3 separate regions of the Homo sapiens genome follow, and all the other regions are linked to region 1. Evidence: fine-mapped expression QTL. A gene starts in region 1. Each other region holds a variant in brackets. All regions are shown on one strand. Distances are between the middles of the regions.

Region 1 (2,843 bases):
GCCCTGAGTAGGTAAGTACAGGGGGCTTCGCCTGGATGGGTCCACCTTGGCAGTCCCCCTGCACCATCTCCTGTGGGAGAGAGCTGTGGTAAGCTTCCTTCCCCAACCCCAATGTCAGAGTGACACAGGGACAGCACTCCCCTTCTGCATTGCCAATTCACGAGTCTTGGGGAATGAGCCCTACCTGAGGGATATCGAAAGGACTAGGAAGTCTGGGATCCACAGACATCATCCCAAAAAAGGGATCTGGAGCATCTTCTAGGGTCTCCATCATGGCCAGGTGGTTAGGAAGCAGCAGGCTGGGTCTGGGAGAGAATGTAGGCCGTGAAGGACTGAGGCTGAGCCAGGCTGAGGCCAAGCTAGCAGGTGTTCCATCAAAGGCCCAGGGCACACTCACAGCTCAGTCTCCATATCTATTCGGATCTGCAGCTGGGCACGGTGGAGGCGCTCCAAGATGTGCTGGATGTCCTCTGTGGGCAGGGAGGACGAGGTAGACAGCCAGCTTAGCAGACAGCTGCTCAGCCCGCCCCACCTTTGAGGGTTCCCAGCCTTACCCACGAGGTACTGGCATTGTTGAGAATAGACGCGGATCACACCGATCTGAAGTTGGGCTGAGAGATAGAGGGAGAAGCGGGGCCGCGGCAGGCCGGGCTGCGGGGGTTGCACTCGTACCAGCACGTAATTGAGGATTTCCTCGCTGGGGAACAATGCGCCCTGATTACCGCTGCGTCCAGGAGTGGGCCCACAGTCTTGGCCACCCCATCCCCTAACTCACCCCCCGCACCAGGCCCTCCTTCCCTTTTCTGGGCCTTACCAGGTTTTCACCACATTCACCCTCAGGTATTCGCGCTTCACCAACCGGCTGCCGCGAGTCGCCGCCAGCCTGAAGTGGGTGGGGAAGGTGGGAGAATGGGGATGGAGGGGGAGCTGTCAGGCTGGGATCCCGGGCAGCGTCCGCCATCGCGCGCCAACGGGCCCCGCCCTTACCAGATGGTGGCAAAGCAGCCGGTGTGGCGCTGAAGCACGTTGGGATAGTAGAACATTGTCCCTCTGGTCTTTCACCCTCGATTCCACCAGATCCCCGTTCGGATCTGAGTCGGAATTCTTTAGGGCACAGAATTCCCAACACCTTGGAGAGAAGTCAGGATTTGGACTTCTCTGGTGGCAAGGTGGGTGCACCTAGAAAGCCAAGTTAATGAGGCAACGAACAATGGGCAGATACACAATTACCAGGATAACTGAGACGCAGGAGATGGGCGCCCCTCTCTGTGGACCCTCAGTGGATCCGCACGCCACGTGATGCGTCAAACTTGAGACTTCTGGGTTGGGTTCCAGGTTGGAGATGCAGAGCTCCAAGGGGACGTCCGGGCCGGAATCCAGAGCAGGTCCCGAGGGAGCACGGTGTCCTCCACAGCAGGCCTCGGTCCTCGAGCGCTGGGAGCGATGTCAGGCCCCTGGGCCTTGCACTGGCTTGGGCGGCCGCGGTGTGGCCCCGGGCCGCCTACTGCAGGACTAGATCGCACCGCGGGAAGCGAGCGCTTCGGGGCACCGCACCTCGCTCCTCATTAGATGGCGGCTTTTGCCCTGACAGCCAATGGGGAACGGGGGTCGGGTCGGGAACGCCAAGTATCCTGGCAACAGGGTCTCCCGAGGCAGCCAGCAAACCAATCATAAGGATTTTGCGCGCCGCTGGGGTCCATTGTGAGGTGTTCCGACCAATGGGCTCCGGTTCTCGCCTCTAGTAACAGGCGCCCCTTCCTTGACCAATGAGCGCATCCCCGTCGCTCCCCCGCCGCTCCCCCGCCGCAAGCCTGGCAACAAGGGCGCCTCAATTGGTAGGGGAGGTCGGGTCACCTCGGGGGCAACTGTACTGGGCCTCTTCCGGGTGCCAAGATGTACCTTGCACGGCGCCTGACCTGAGGTTAGACCCCGCCCTTCCCCCAATCCACAAACTCCGACTTTGTTTCCAACTAGGGCGTGTCGTGTGCTGCAGAGGAAGAAAGATGTGAGATGAGGCCGGGCGCAGTGGCTCACGCCTGTAATCCTAGCACTTTGGGAGGCCGAGGCGGGCGGATCATGAGGTTAGGAGTTCGAGTCCAGCCTGACCAATATGGTGAAACCCCGTCTCTATTAAAAATGCAAAAGTTAGCTGGGCGTGGTGGCACGCGCCTGTAATCCCAGCTACTCAGGAGGCTGAGGCAGGAGAATGCTTGAACCTGGGAGGCGGAGGTTGCAGTGAGCCGAGATCATGCAGCTCCACTCCAACCTGGGCAAGGGAGCAAGACTCCGTCTCAAAAAAAAAAAAAAAAAAAAAGGCTGTGAGATGATGGCCTTGGAGCCACCACAGGTCAATGAGGAAGAAGTCCATTTTTTTTTTTTTTGATGGCCTTGGAGCCACCACAGGTCAATGAGGAAGAAGTCCATTTTTTTTTTTTTTTTTTGAGATGGAGGCTCTCACTGTTGCCCAGGCTGGAATGCAGTGGCGCTATCTCGGCAATCTCGGCTCACTGCATCCTCTGCCCCCCATCCCCTCAGGTTCAAGCGATTCTCGTGTCTTGGCCTCCTGAGTAGCTGGGATTACAGGCGCCCTCCATCACACCCAACTAATTTTTGCATTTTTAGAAGAGACGGGATTTCACTATGTTGGCCAGGCTGGTTTCTTTTTTTTTTGAGATGGAGTTTCACTCTGTCACCCAGGCTGGAGTGCAGTGGCGCAGTCTCAGCTCATTGCAGCCTCCGCCTCCCCGGTGCAGGGGATTCTCCTGCCTCAGGCTCCCGAGTAGCTGGGATTACAGGCGCCCACCACCACACCTGGCTAAATTTTGTATTTTTTAGTAGAGACA
Region 2 (2,500 bases), 110 kb after region 1:
GCACAGGGAGGCTGGGGACTTGGATCAGGGCAGGACCATGGTCTACTCACCTCTCCAGGGCCCTTGCGATGTCCAGGAAGCCCAGGGCAGATGTATTGTTCCGATCCCATAGGATAGTTCTGGGGGGAGGGTAAGCACCAGTTTGGCACCTCTCCTCCTGGGTCCCTACTAGGGGCCAGGGACACAAACCTCTTGGGGCAATAAGGCTGACTCAGAGATGGTTCTGGGGCTGGGGGTCTTCTGGAAGCTGGGGTCCAGAGCATCAAGGAAAGCAGGGAGATTATGTACATATGGGGAGGGGCTGGGGCTCCAGGTCAGGGGGTCCCGGTGTGGGCCCCACCTGAGGGAGGAGTTTATCTGCAGGGCCTTAGACAGCATCTTGGCCCCGATGTCCTCCATGCCATTGCCGCTCAGATCCACCTTGGCCAGGCAGGTGTTGCTGCCCAGGGCATTGATGAGGATGCTGGTGCGAAGCTTCAGCCGGGAGTCTGCCACCGACAGTGACTGCAGGGACTGTGTGGGCAAGGGGCGGTTGGACCCAGTCCCCACAGCCTCCTCCGACTGCAGGTCCCCTCCCAGGCCCAGGCACTCACACAGTCCTCTTCCTGGATCAGCTGCACCAGCTTGTGGAGGATCTCCTCCAGGGTCCTGCAGGGAGGCGGGGCTCAGAGTAGGAGGGGAAGGGCTGGGGTCATGCTATTGGAGGAGGAGAGAGGTGGCCAGAGGTAATACGGTGAGCCAAGAGGATGGGTGAATGATGGGATGAGGGTCTGTGGGCATGGAAAGGGGGCCTCACTTGGCCTTGACATTGAAGTTCTTGCCCAAAAACAGGTGCTTGAGGGACTTGTTCTTGCCAAGTGCAGGCACCAGTGTCAGGAGGTCCGAGTCGAACCCTGGTGAGCAGATGGGAGAGGCCTGGCCTGGAGGCCTGAGGCTGACTGGTGTCCCATCAGGGCTGCTTCTGCATGCTCCAGGCCCCTGTTCTCCCCTGGCCCCAGGGAAGGGAGGAACCACTACTCACCATTGTCTGACAGATCCAGGCTGCCTACACAGGTGACAGCTCCCAGCTGCTCCTGCAAGGCTTGGGCTCCCGCTGAACGGAGCTGCAGGGACAAGGTGAGGTAGGGAAGGCAGGGGTTGGGGTGGGGGTAGGGCACCTTTAATGCTTAGGATATAGTAGTCACACCAGAACTCAAAGTCATGCCAGGATCTGGGTGTAAAATCAGGGAGACTCTTTCCCCACACCAGATCCTTCCCTAGAGCTGGCTTCCCTCCCTTCGGCCAGGAAGGCTGCTATTCCTAAGACAGCTTGCTCCTGC[C/T]CTCTGGTGGAAAAGTCTGGTATCTCCCACCCCAAAGCTTTAAGGGCAGAGATACTAGAGACTGAGAATGAATGGCCTCTGGAAAAGAGGCCAGACTGAGAGGGGAAAGTGGTGGTGTGGCCAGGTCAGGGGGTCGCAGAGGGTCAGCACAGAGGCTAGATGGAGCCAGGGTTTGACTTAGGTCTGAGAAATGCACATGGATCGGAGGCGGGCAGAGGGGTTGGGGACTGAGGGCTCACCTCGCAGCTGCTGAGATCCAGGTGCAGGTCACTGAGGTGACTGTTGAGGGAGAGGCCCTGAAGCAGCGCCCTGTGGGAGGGAGGTCAGCAGGCCCTCCTTTACCTCTTCCCGCTCCCCGTGGTTCCCTTGGATGCGCCCCCAACCCTGCACCCACCCGACCTGAGGGCCTCCAGGGGCAGCTTTGTGGCCGACAGATTGACGTGGCTCAGTGTGTAGGCGCTGCTGAAGAACTGCTTGAAGGCCGGCGGGGCCTCTCGACCCTTCCTGTGGAGAGACCCCTGGGGTCAGCGAGGGAGGGGGTTGGCCATGTCTTGCCCTGTCCTCCCTTCCCCCTCCTCTCCCACCTGTGGGAGCAGCTGTTGCGAGCCAGGTTGAGGTAGGTGAGGTGGGAGCAGCAGCCGTGGAGCAGGGCACCGAGAAGCTGTGGGGGGAGATATGGTGGGTCTCAGGGGAGCTGGAAGGGGGTAGGGGGTGGCAGGAAAGGACTCCCCCTCCCTCCCCATCGAGGTTCCTGGCTCTTCATTCTCTGTGGTCAGCCTGTGTGAGCTCCACTGGAGATGCCCACTCAGATTCTTGAAGTCTCTGTTTTCTCCCCTGTGGAACATGGGTCTACTCCCTGCCTGGCTTCCAGGGGCATGAAGCTGCTCACAGGCAGTGGATGTGTAAAGCCAGGGCCACCACTGACTCCTAAGGTGCCTTGTTCAAGTTAGGAAAAGCATCCATTCCCCTGGTGGAGCCAGGGTGCACAGCTGGGGAAGGGAGCAAGGGCTGGCTTTTAAGCACAGCAAGCACAAGCTTGTGACCTGGATAAAGTGCCACACAGGTATGAACTATGGACATTGCTTTATACTTCAGCTGAACCTGAAGTCATCTAGACAGCTCTGCCCGCCTGTGTACTCAGGGATAGGGGGTGAGACCGAGGCCCACTGTGGTCTTCCCCA
Region 3 (2,843 bases), 180 kb before region 1:
GTAGCTGGAATTACAGGCGCCAGCCCCCACGCCTGGCTAATTTTTGTATTTTTAGTAGAGATGGAGTTTCACCATGTTGGCCAGGCTGGTCTTGAACTCCTGACCTCATGATCTGCCTGCCTCAGCCTCCCAAAGTTCTGGGATTACAGGCATGAGCCACTGTGCCCGGCCTAAAATTCACTTTTTAAGATGTTGAATCTCATCCAAAAACACCCTCCAAGCAGACCCATAAAATGTAACCATCACAAGGTCCTTCTCCCACACAATGGGAGCTTGCTCACTACTCCTCTCCTTTCCAGCTCCAATGCAAACACAGCCAAGAAGTGCAAGGGAGTTAGTGCCTCCAGATGCAATCCTCAACCAATGAGTGCAGGCACTGGCAGATGAATGTTCCAGCCTCCCATCCTTCATGTGGACAATTCTGGGAGGCATTCTTTAAATTTGGAGCCTCTACTGGAAAGGAGCCTCCACTGCCTACAATAACAATCTCAACAAAACATCCTCATATTGGCTTTCTTCCCTTCCTAGTTCACACTCTGTTCCCTCACTGCTGCTTCTTGGGATCCCCTCCCCAAAACACTACCTTTGTTAAATCCAAGCTCAGGCTCTTCTTTTTGGGAAACCCAAACTTAGACGCCTTCTCAGTAGCAGCTGAGTCTGATAAGTCTCTCCTCCCTTGGCTATCCTGGTTCTGCTCCGGCCTCTCTGACCTCAGTTTCTCTCACTGGTTTCTCTTCTGCTGGCCTGACTTTGGAGATGTAGTGTTTTCTGTCCTCTGCCTTCTTCCCTTCTTCCTCCATAGACTCTCTCGGTTGGTGTCGTTCATTTCAGCATAACTCTCACCACTTCCCTGCTCCGGTCTCCTGTCTTCTCCTGCCTGCTAGGGATCCCTTGAGGCTGCAGCACGTGGCTCTCACACAAACATGTCCACATCCAAATATAGCCCATTCCCACATAATGTATCTCTTCTATGTTCCATACCTCAGTGTCATGGCATTACTATTCTCTCAACTTTCCAGAATAGAAACTTTGAATATTCCTTCTCTCTCATCCCCAGGTTCTTCTACTAATACCTCAGAGTTATTTCTAGACTGAGTTTCTTCCTCTCGATCCCTGCAGGCATTAACTTGGTTCAGGTCCTCATCACCTCTCACTTGA[A/G]TTGCTCTAACTGTGGCCTGCAGTTTTCCCTGCCTCCAGTTCTCCCCATCTCATTTCATGCACCATGTAGCCACTGGCTTGAGCCTCCTAAGTCACAGATCTAATCATGTTGCAATGTAGCTCAAGACCATTCCACAGCTTCTGATATTAAAACAAAGCAAAACCTTTTAAGCCAGAGTTCCTGGCACAGAAGAACTTGAGAAGGCATGTATTCAAATGAGAACAGTGGTCATTTATGTACCCTTACTGCTCATTTGGGGCACCTCTTTACCTCCACACCACAGCTGTTTGTGGAGGGCACTTTCTTCCATCCAAAACCTGGTCTAAGTTACACAAATTCCCTGTTGGTAGTTCCCTTATCAAAGGTGAGTCAGTCTTACACTTTCAAAATGAACTTTCTTAAAAATTAAAGTAAATCCAAGAAGTACACACACACACACACACACACACACACAACCCATAAGCAGGAATATCTGAACCTTTAAAAATGAATAGATCTATTTTTTTAATCATAACAGGTAGAAATATAAAACCCAAACTCTAAAACTTAGAAAGAAGCATAAGAGAAAATCACTGTAACCTTGGATGAAGCAAAAATTTCTTATAGACTACACCAAAAGAAAAACTTGATTTTTTATCATCTATAAAAGAAAAACTTGACAAGTTGGATTTTGTCAAAAGTAAAACTTTTGCTCTTTGAAAGAAACTGTTAAGAAAATGAAAAGACTAGACATAGGCAGGGAGAAAGTATTTTTAAATGATACATCTGAAAAAGAACTTGTATCCAGAATATATAAAGAACTTTCAAAACTCGGTAATAATAAAACAAACAATCCATTAAAATATGAGCCAAAAATTTGAACAGACACTTCACCTAAGAAGACGTATGGATGGTGGTAGGGCGCAGTGGCTCACGCTTGTAATCCCAGCCATTTGGGAGACTGAGGCGGGCAGATCACCTGAGGTGAGGAGTTCGAGACCAGCCTGGGCAACATGGCAAACCCCTGCCTCTACTAAAAATACAAAAAAATCAGCCAGGCATGGTGGCATACGCCCGTAGTCCCAGGTACTTAGGAGGCTGGGGCATGAGACTCACTTGAACCTGGATGGCAGAGGTTGCAGTGAGCAGAGATGGCGCCACCGCACTCTAGCCTGGGCAACAGAGTGAGATTCTGTCTCAATTAAAAAAAAAAGAAAAGATATATGGATGGCAAGTAAGCACATGAAAACATGCTTATATTATTGGTCATTGTGGAAATGCAAATTAAAACCACAATGAGCTACCTATCCAAATAGCTAATAGTAACAGGACTTGAACATAGCAAATGATGGCAAAGATATGAAAGAACTAGAGCTCTCATACATTTCTGGTGAGAATATAAAATACTACAACTACTCTGAAAAACTATTTCACAATTTTTTTTTTTTTTTGAGAGAGAGTCTCACTCTATTGCCCAGGCTGGAGTGTAGTGGTGTGATCTCAGCTCACTGCAGCTTCCACCTCCCAGGTTCAAGCGATTCTCCTGCCTCAGCCTCCCAAGTAGCTGGGATTACAGGTGTGTACCACTACACCTGGCTAATTTTTGTGTTTTCAGTAGATACCAGGTTTCAACACGTTGGCCAGGCTAGTCTTGACCTCCTGACCTCAAGTGATCCACCCACCTCAGCCTCCCAAAGTGCTGGGA

Direction of the effects. Positions count from the first base shown, and alleles are read on the strand shown. Sizes are in standard deviations (SD) of each study's normalised expression. Not every link is listed here.
As copies of A replace G in region 3, the expression in CD8 T cells of the gene that starts at base 1,516 in region 1 goes down (large effect, 1.3 SD a copy in Kasela 2017).

Evidence for each region.
Region 2: its variant is fine-mapped to the expression of REC8 in whole blood (TOPMed, PIP above 0.99).
Region 3: its variant is fine-mapped to the expression of REC8 in CD8 T cells (Kasela 2017, PIP 0.95).

The regions. Positions count from the first base shown.
Region 1 is chr14:24,170,753-24,173,595 of GRCh38, reverse strand. It overlaps REC8 (REC8 meiotic recombination protein), which reads right to left and starts at 1,516. Exons shown (of 19, transcript NM_001048205.2): 1 at 988-1,516; 2 at 815-883; 3 at 555-697; 4 at 398-470; 5 at 185-305. The coding sequence starts at 1,043. RefSeq lists enhancers at 1,286-1,535, 1,604-2,104 and a silencer at 1,706-1,755.
Region 2 is chr14:24,057,283-24,059,782 of GRCh38, reverse strand. It overlaps CARMIL3 (capping protein regulator and myosin 1 linker 3), which reads right to left. Exons shown (of 40, transcript NM_138360.4): 15 at 1,904-1,980; 16 at 1,719-1,823; 17 at 1,559-1,628; 18 at 1,022-1,103; 19 at 797-893; 20 at 594-648; 21 at 341-513; 22 at 51-119. Among named protein-coding and RNA genes, the nearest start is that of CARMIL3, 6.5 kb to the right of the region's middle. The variant C/T (reference allele first, on the strand shown) is at 1,320.
Region 3 is chr14:24,347,967-24,350,809 of GRCh38, reverse strand. No RefSeq gene overlaps it. Among named protein-coding and RNA genes, the nearest start is that of RIPK3, 9.4 kb to the right of the region's middle. The variant A/G (reference allele first, on the strand shown) is at 1,159.